Regions from separate parts of the Homo sapiens genome. Here region 2 is linked to region 1. Evidence: fine-mapped expression QTL. A gene starts in region 1. The other region holds a variant in brackets. All regions are shown on one strand. Distances are between the middles of the regions.

What was found. PIP is the estimated chance that this variant, and not a neighbour inherited with it, causes the effect.
Region 2: its variant is the best candidate, but not a certain one, in a credible set for the expression of ACTG1 in whole blood (TOPMed, PIP 0.57).

Annotation. Positions count from the first base shown.
Region 1 is chr17:81,510,469-81,514,844 of GRCh38, forward strand. ACTG1 (actin gamma 1) reads right to left here and starts at 2,331. Exons shown (of 6, transcript NM_001614.5): 1 at 2,266-2,331; 2 at 1,764-1,892; 3 at 1,435-1,674; 4 at 720-1,158; 5 at 459-640; 6 at 1-365. The coding sequence starts at 1,886. The coding sequence ends at 222. RefSeq lists enhancers at 1,777-1,866, 3,077-3,356, 3,387-3,436 and silencers at 2,087-2,256, 2,457-2,936, 3,567-3,756, 3,977-4,376.
Region 2 is chr17:81,463,997-81,468,372 of GRCh38, forward strand. It overlaps BAHCC1 (BAH domain and coiled-coil containing 1), which reads left to right. Exons shown (of 28, transcript NM_001377448.1): 28 at 1-2,335. Among named protein-coding and RNA genes, the nearest start is that of MIR3186, 15 kb to the left of the region's middle. The variant G/A (reference allele first, on the strand shown) is at 2,138.

The DNA.
Region 1 (4,376 bases):
AAACAAATACCAAGGGGAACAGTTAACTTCAATACAAGGTCAAAATCAGCAACAAGTTCTACAATCCAGTGCTGATATCAGATACAAGCTTCAAGGACAATTTCTTTTCGAAGGCTTATTCCAGTTTCGTGAGGCTAGCATGAGGTGTGTGCATTTGCCAGGGGCAAATTTCTATTCTCAATTAACCCATGCAGCAAATGCTACGCATCTGCTGAGTCCGTTTAGAAGCATTTGCGGTGGACGATGGAGGGGCCCGACTCGTCGTACTCCTGCTTGCTAATCCACATCTGCTGGAAGGTGGACAGTGAGGCCAGGATGGAGCCACCGATCCACACCGAGTACTTGCGCTCTGGGGGTGCGATGATCTGCAAAGACAGCCAGGCACGGCTTCAGCTCACAGAGCGCCCCCCAGTCAGCTCTCCCGAGCCAGGCAGAGGGCCACCAACCCCTCGACTCACCTTGATCTTCATGGTGCTGGGCGCCAGGGCGGTGATCTCCTTCTGCATCCTGTCGGCAATGCCCGGGTACATGGTGGTGCCGCCCGACAGCACCGTGTTGGCGTACAGGTCTTTGCGGATGTCCACGTCACACTTCATGATGGAGTTGAAGGTGGTCTCGTGGATGCCGCAAGATTCCATACCTAGGGGACAGAGCCCTCCCTTAGTGATGCTGTGTCACCGAGGATGTAAGAGTAGAAACCTTTAGCTCACAACACCTACCCAGGAAGGAAGGCTGGAACAGCGCCTCCGGACACCGGAACCGCTCATTGCCAATGGTGATGACCTGGCCATCGGGCAGCTCGTAGCTCTTCTCCAGAGAAGAGGAGGATGCGGCGGTGGCCATCTCCTGCTCGAAGTCCAGGGCGACGTAGCACAGCTTCTCCTTGATGTCGCGCACGATTTCCCGCTCGGCCGTGGTGGTGAAGCTGTAGCCTCGCTCAGTGAGGATCTTCATGAGGTAGTCGGTCAGGTCCCGGCCAGCCAGGTCCAGACGCAGGATGGCGTGGGGGAGGGCGTAGCCCTCGTAGATGGGCACCGTGTGGGTGACCCCGTCTCCAGAGTCCATGACAATGCCAGTGGTGCGCCCAGAGGCGTAGAGGGACAGCACGGCCTGGATGGCCACGTACATGGCCGGGGTGTTGAAGGTCTCAAACATAATCTGAGAAGGGACAAGGGGCGGCTTAGTCAGGGACAGAGACCCACGGCCACCCCATGCTCACACGCCACAACATGCTGCATGCCAGTGTGATGTGTGGAGAAAAGAAAAGAACGCAGGCAGAAACCAAATGAGAAACCTGGAGGCTTCAGGGAGGAAATGCCGGGAGAGGAACAGAGCCTGGAACAGCGAAAGAAACACTTAAATGTCAGAAATCAAGCCGGGCAGAAAATGACTGGGGAAAGGACGGGAGGAGCACGGGCGTCGGCCGAGCCTCACCTGAGTCATCTTCTCTCTGTTGGCCTTGGGGTTCAGGGGGGCCTCGGTCAGCAGCACTGGGTGCTCCTCCGGGGCCACGCGCAGCTCGTTGTAGAAGGTGTGGTGCCAGATCTTCTCCATGTCGTCCCAGTTGGTGACGATGCCATGCTCAATGGGGTACTTCAGGGTCAGGATGCCACGCTTGCTCTGGGCCTCGTCGCCCACGTAGGAGTCCTTCTGGCCCATGCCCACCATGACGCCCTGCAGGGGACGACCCGTCAGCCTCGCCGGCGACACCGAACCCACCCCGCAACGCAGAACCCAGGAGCCCCGCGGCGCCATCCACTCACCTGGTGTCTGGGGCGCCCGACGATGGAAGGAAACACGGCTCGGGGAGCGTCGTCCCCAGCAAAACCAGCTTTGCACATGCCGGAGCCATTGTCAATGACCAGCGCGGCGATCTCTTCTTCCATTGCGACCTGCCCGGAAAAGGATGGACTCAGGCGGGCGCGTCTGTAACACGGTCCCCTCCCCACAGCCACCTAATGCCCTCCCGCGGGGAAGCCTCGGCCCTGCCCCAACCCCAGCGGCCGTGGCCTCCAAGATCGCAACCGCCTGGAACCGAAGGCCGGGCCTTTTACGTAACGTCCACGGCTCGGAAGTCTGCACTGCGGCCGGGCCCCGCCCTGGACCCCCGGCGCCCCCCCAGCCCCGTCCGCCTGACCCGGCCCACCCCGCCTTTTGTTCCCGGGGAAGGCGCGACGAGGCCTCGGCAGCTGGAAGCGGGGCCAGCCGGGGTCGGGGGGCGCAGGCCTGCGACGTCCAGCTCAGGCCCCGGGGCGGGGCGCTCACCGGCAGAGAAACGCGACGGCGGAGCGGCGGAAGAACAGAGTGCGAGAGCTGGCAGCGGCGACTGAGACCGACCGCGGCCTCCCCCGCCGTTATTTAAGCGGAAGCGGCGCGCCCGCGCGGCCCGGCGGCGCGCGCGGCCCCAGAACATGTCCATATATGGCGATCTTTCCGAAAGCCGGGCACCCATTGGCCCGCCGGGCAGGGACACGTGGGGCCCCGGCCCGCCCCGCCCCCAGCCCGCACCGCCTCCCAACGGCCCCGCCCGCGCCACCCCCGCGCGCTCGCGACCCTGCGCGGGCCGGCGGGCGGGTCTGAGTTGGGGCGCCCTCCGAGGGTCGCCGGGAGGGCCGAAGGGCTGACGGGCCTGGCCCCTCCCCGGGACTGCCGCGCCGTGGGGAGGGCCCTGCTGCGCCCCGAAACTGCCTGACCCGGGGCGGGGCCGCGCCGGAGCTGGGGTGGGTCCCCGAGTCCCCGGCCACGCTGCGGGGCTTTGCTCCCTGGGACGTCCCTTGCAATCTTTCCCCTCGGGCTCCACGAGGATCTCGGGCGCCAGTGCCGGGCTGAGGAAGGGGCGCGGCGGGGGTCCGCGACGCTCTGCGTCCCTGGGCGCGGGGGAGCTCTCAGGAGCCCTCACCTCGCCCCGGTCACCATAGGAAACAGCCCGCCCGTCCCCAAGCGCAGCCACCACCATGCAGGTCCCTCCACGGGGCGCCCTGCCCCGGATCTCCGTTCGTTTGAAGACCGAGGCCCCTTTCTACCCGACCCGACACATCCCTGCCCCTCAAATCACAGGCCTGATTGTCCCCAGGCGCGCGCTCCGGGTTGGGGCTACCCCGCCCCCTTATGTGCTGAGAAGGTGGTGTGGAGTGAGGCCTTTGTTTCATTCTGGTCACCTGTAGACATTATAGGGAAACTGAGGTAGACAATGGGAGCCCTGACTTTTTTGAAGGTCGGCTCCCCAGCTTCGGGCGGTCGGGGGGATACCCTCTTCTGTTTACGATGCTAGTTAAGAGCAGCGATCAGGGCTGGCGTGGGTTTAGCCACAGGCTTGTCCAGGGCGCTCACTCCTCGCCAGGAGCGGCGCCGGTGCTTTGGTTACACCCCGAGAGGCGCCCGGCACTACGGTTTCCTTGTGCGCTGCTGGAATTTTCAGGGTTGGAGCGCCGGCCGCGTAGGGGTGGCAGTGAGGCCGCGCAGTGAGGGGACGGACTCGCCCGAGGTCGCAGAGCGTTCAGATTGACTCGACAGGCTGGGGGGCGGGGCCGGGGTCCCCACGCGGAGTCCGGGGCCCTGCAACGTTAGCTCGCGACCCCGTGTTTGGGAGTGACAACAGCGAGTCAGGGCAAGGCGGCCGGCCCAGCTCACCTGCGGGCTGCAGTCAGCCCGGACGCCGAGACCCGTGCCTAAGGCCCCCGTGCCCCAGGCCTCCCAGGGGTGCTGAGCGCCCCCAGGCCCAGAATCTCCGGGGGCCCGGGCAAGGCTGTCAGGTATGTTCCCTCCCGTGGCGAAGCCGGGGCTGGGCCTCCAACAGACCCACCCGGACTCGCGTCCCTGGGCAGAACCACACAGCCTGCTCGACCCCCGGGTGAGGACTTCCACTTGGGGGGTCCCAAGATGCGACGTCACACACCGAGGGACACGAGGCGGGTGGGGAATAGCCACAAGCCCCTCCATCCTGCGTTCACCCCACACTACGTTCTGCTCCGGGCCGGCCGGGGACCCTGCCCCTCCGGGTCTCTGGTCTCCTCCGAAGCTTCTTTGTCTAGGAAGTGCGGGGAGGTGCCGGCCCCGGGCGCGCGTCCCCGTCCCCCACCTTTCTTCCCCACGTTGCGGACCCGAGGCCGCCAGGGTCGTGGGGGCGGGGGCGAGGCTGGCGCCTCGAGACCCCCGGGTTCCCCGCCACCCGCAGGGCCTGAGCCGCGGGGAGGGGCGGGGAGGGGACGCCGCCGCGGGCCGGGGGTGGAGAGCGACTTCCTCCTCCGCGGCCGCGTCACGCGGCAGGGGTCAAGGTGTGGCCCAGGTACGCGGCGGGGGGCGGTGGCGCGGCCATATTTGGCGACTTCGGCGCCGCCGGAGCCCCGCCCGCCTCCGCCGGGAAGCCCGGCCCGGGG
Region 2 (4,376 bases), 46 kb before region 1:
AGGTGTCGGAATCCAGTCCCGTCCCATCCTCTGCGGAGGGTCGGGCTGTGGCCCTCATGGGTCCCCGGCCCGCCCCACCCACAGCGCCCTCCGTTTCCCGCACCGGCAGTTCACGGGAGATTTGAATCCAAGCCATATTCCCTAGTACCTCCGACTGTCTCCCACCAGGGAAAGCAGAAATCAGGTGTGTTGTCTATTTATTTCTCTATGTAAATATTGTATTTCTGCGGGGAAATTTTATGGTAAAAAGTGGAAAAGGGTTTTTCCCCATCCGCGTGACAAGGTGTGTGTGAGCGTGTATGTGTGTGCGCGTGTGTGGCGATTTTTGTCCTGGGGTTTCCTTTGGAAATGCACTGTTCTCAGCCCAGCTGGGTTCCAACGGGGGCACCTGGGACGACAGAGGCATCTCGGGGCAGGGGGCAGAGGCCACGGGAGGGTCAGGTGGGACCCTTGACGGCACCCTCTGATCTCTTGGGGGGACGACCGTGTAAGATGAAAGTCGGTCAAGTTTATTTGCTTTCAGTGCATCTCCTAGAAAAGAAGTGTTGGAGCAGGGGGTGGTGATGAGGGGCCCGTGGGGAAAGGATTCAAGAGGCAAAGCCCAGACCAGGGAGTGTGACAACAGCCGTGAGCATCTCACCTGTGTTCAAAACAAGACAAAGACGAACAAATATTTTAAAGTATTGATAAGAAAAAGCAATGTTTGGATTGTATCTGCTGAATCATATTCCAACCTATATCTGATTTCTGTTTCCGGGGCCAGTTGGTCTGAGGCCAAGGAGTCTGGCCTCCACCCAGAGCAGGGAGGGGCTGGCCCCTCGCCCCCCTCACCCTCGCCGCCCTGGCACACTCGGGAAGCAGGGCCCAGCTCTGAGCCCCTCCTCACCCCTGGGGTCCTAACTTTCCTGAAAGTAGTAGGTGCCGTGAGAAGGGGCAGTTTGGCCAGGTTCCTGAACTGGGCAGGGCTCGGGGCCTATGAGGGCAGGTTCACAGTCCCACCAGATTCTCTCCTCACCCCCAAGCAGAATGCATGCAAAAGACACCCCTTTTCCCACCCACCTTATTGGTGCCCCCAAACCCCTGGCCTGCTGCGTAGATGGTGGTGAGGCCAGGCCAGCAGTGCTGTGGCCAGGGGAGAAGAAAATAAAACGCAGGCCCTGCCCTTGGGGAAGGCCCCTTTCTGGGCCCCCTTTTCCACCAGCCAAATCTGCCTGGCCCTCGGACCCCTCTGCCTGCCCCAACCCCTTTGGAGGTTTCTCGGCCTTTTCTGTGCCACTTGGTGGGGCAGATGGCCTGATGGGCTAGTGCTTGGGGCATAGAATGAGGGTCCCCCTGACCACCTGAGCCCAAATCCTGGCCCCAGGTGCAAGCAGCACCCCTCGAGGGCTCTGCCCCAGTATCCCCAGGGAATTCACACCCCTCCCCTTCTCCCACAGCCAAGGACAGACAGGCTGCCTGGACCTGAGCCCAACAGCCTTCAGCCTCAGAAACGCATGGGGGGCCACACACTCCTTATATCCTCCCACACTAAGGTTCCCCTGGCCCCACGGGAGCTTCAGGAAAGCCCCCCAAGTTAGCCACTGCTCTAGGACGAGCTCTGTGTCCCCCACACCACAGGCCTCGAAGCAGGGTGCTGGTGGGTGCCCTGTACCCCAATCCCAGGTCCCCTTGGCCCCCTATTTTTCTCGGGCCCATTGGGGCCTGTTTCTCACCTGCTGGCTGGACCCCCTGAAGGGCCGTTCCCAGAGGCTCCCCAGGAGGCTCAAGGCTGGGGGCTTATGTTGTGGTCGGGGGTCCCCGCCTCCAGCCCCCCGCTCCCACCCCCGAGCCTACCCTTTGTCTCGCATGAGTGCAATATTTCATTCCCGGTGGTTGTCTGGGGAGGTGGTTGGACGAGGTCCTGCTTGAGGCTCGGGGATCAGAACGATGTCAAGTGAAGAAAAATGCACGGGGGCATGCTGAGCCACTGGAGTTCCAGAGAGGGCCGAGGAGGGTGCAGCCACGGAGGTTGGATCCTCTGCTCCGCCGCCTCGTCCTCGTCCCGCTTCTGCTGGGTTCCGCTTTGTCCCTGGTTTTTTCCTTTCTTTTTCTGTGTGCGTGCGAATGGTGCGGCCCCTCCCCTCTCACCGTGGTTAAC[G/A]TGACGAAGGCACGATTCCTGTAAATGTGTAAACTAAGGGGATGGTTGGATTTTTTTTCAATGTAAACACTAAAAACAAAATGGACAAAAAAACACACAAAGGTTTTATGAACAGCAGACTCTATGTAAAGGCATTTTAGTATCAAATTTTTTATTGATAACTTGCTTAAGAATAAATATATGGACTATTGTACAGGTTTTCGGTGGTCCAGGGTCCTGTGTCCCACGGTACTCCTGGGGGTTCCCCAGGGCTCCGGGGGCTCAGCAGAAGCCTCTCGTTCCCAGAGCTGGGGCTTCTGGGCCAGGCCTCCCCACCGCCCCCTGTGTTGGCCCAAGTGAAGCCCCTCAGGCCAGGAAAGGGTCATGTGACCGGAATGGGCTCAGAGTGGTCTTAGGGGTGGGGTCCCTCCAGGAGGAGGGCCCCTTTCCTGGTTGCTCTCACAGTCCCTGTCCAGCCTGAACCAGTCCAGGGCCAGAGTAGGTTCCACTGGAGAGGACGAAGGGCAAGAGCAGTCTCCGAGCCGCCACGCTGGGCAGGGTCTCAGACGTGAATGACCATCCTGGGAGGGGCGGCCCACGGCCCGGGTGTGGGAACACAGATGAGTGCACCCCCAGCTGGAGAGAGCCCTGTTCATGAGGCTGCAGACCCAGAGGAAGCCGGATGCTTGCAGGGGGTAGGGGACCCTCCTTGTTCCCCCTCTGCCGCCGGGATCTTGGGAAGCTGCATGAAGTCGGTGCACATCTGTCCCAGTGGGCCCTGAGTGCCTGGTCACAGCTGCGTCCAAGGCCAGGAAACATGGTCCTTGGAGGACGGAGTCCCTGAGTCAGCAGTGCCTTCCTGGGCCGGTGAGTGCGGAGAGAGGTGCTCAGGGACCGGCCGTGCCTCAGGCTGCTGTGAGGGCAGGGAGCAGATGAGGCCCTGGCCGGGCCGAGCGCTGAGTAAGGGGGCTGCTGGACCAGGTTTCTGGGTCAGGGGTCCTCTGTGGCAAGAAAGGAAAGACGGGTGAGGCCAGACACTCCCTGTGGGCTCAGGAGACCCTGACTTCAGTGATCTCAGTGACTTTTTTCGGGCAGAATCCAGCCCGGAACAGGGAGGAAGGCCTGCGGCTGTTGCCCCGGTTCCTGGAGCCCTGAGCCAGGACTTGCTGCCGCCTCCTGCCCACTCCAGGAGCTTGCCTGACGGAGCAGGTCGCACGGAGAGGCCACAGGCAGCCGACAGGGACTCTGGGGCAAGAGAGCCGGATGAGGCCCAGGCCGGAGAGGTGACACCTGCCTGGGAAGCCCACAGGAAACCTCTGCCAGCAGGTCTCAGGTTCAAATCCTCCATTCACCCAGCACTGCCTGGTGCCAGCAGTGTACCAAGCAGTGAGCCACAGTGGAAGTGAGCGGCCCACGGCCCCACCTTCATGACAGGCAGATGGGAGAGACCAGAACAGTGGGGCCCAGCAGCTGCACCCGGGGCCACGCAGCTGAGATAACCTCACCCGTGGAACCCCAAGGTCGGCCACCCCCATCTCAGCCAAAAGTGTGGTATCGGGGCTGAGCCAGGCCTGGTGGGGCAGCACTGTGGCTCCCCGCCCCCCGCTGCATGTGGCAGCAGGATCAGCGGGGACTTCCGCACCTGGCAAAGCAGACAAAGAACTGACTGTCCCTGGGGTGGTCCAGGTGGGCTCCCTGGAAGAAGTAACACCTGGGCTGTCTTGGAAAAGCCCAGGGCAGGGCAGGGCAGACAGAGGGTAGTCAAGGAACAGCTGGGGTGGCCAGCAGGTGGTTAATGGGGGCGGGGGGAGGTAGGGGATTGATGTTAGAGCTAGAGGGTGACAGAGGCCAAATCTCAAGCCCCTGAGAGCAGCATGGAGCCTGTCTTCTCTCTCTGACAATGGGTGCCCCAAGGGCTCTAAGCAGAGTCTGCAGTCAAATTGAGGCACTGGTTCTGCAGCCTGGGAGTCAGGGTTGAAGGTCCCAGGCCAGCCAGGCACCTGGGGGTCAGGGTTAGAGGGGCCAGGTCAACTAGACACCTGAGGGCCCAGGCCGGCACAGGTACCTGGGGGGAGGGGCTGGCACCAAGAGAAAGGCTTTAAGGGTGGCACAGGGCCGGACTAGGGGTCCAGGTGGGGCTGAGGGCCGGAAACGGCCAGAGGGGAGGGGGCCTGGCTGAAGGGGGTGCCACCAGTGAGCCCAGGAGGCAGGTGACCCGGGCTTAGCGAGTGGGGTTGACGGCAGGCTTAGGTGGGCCCCC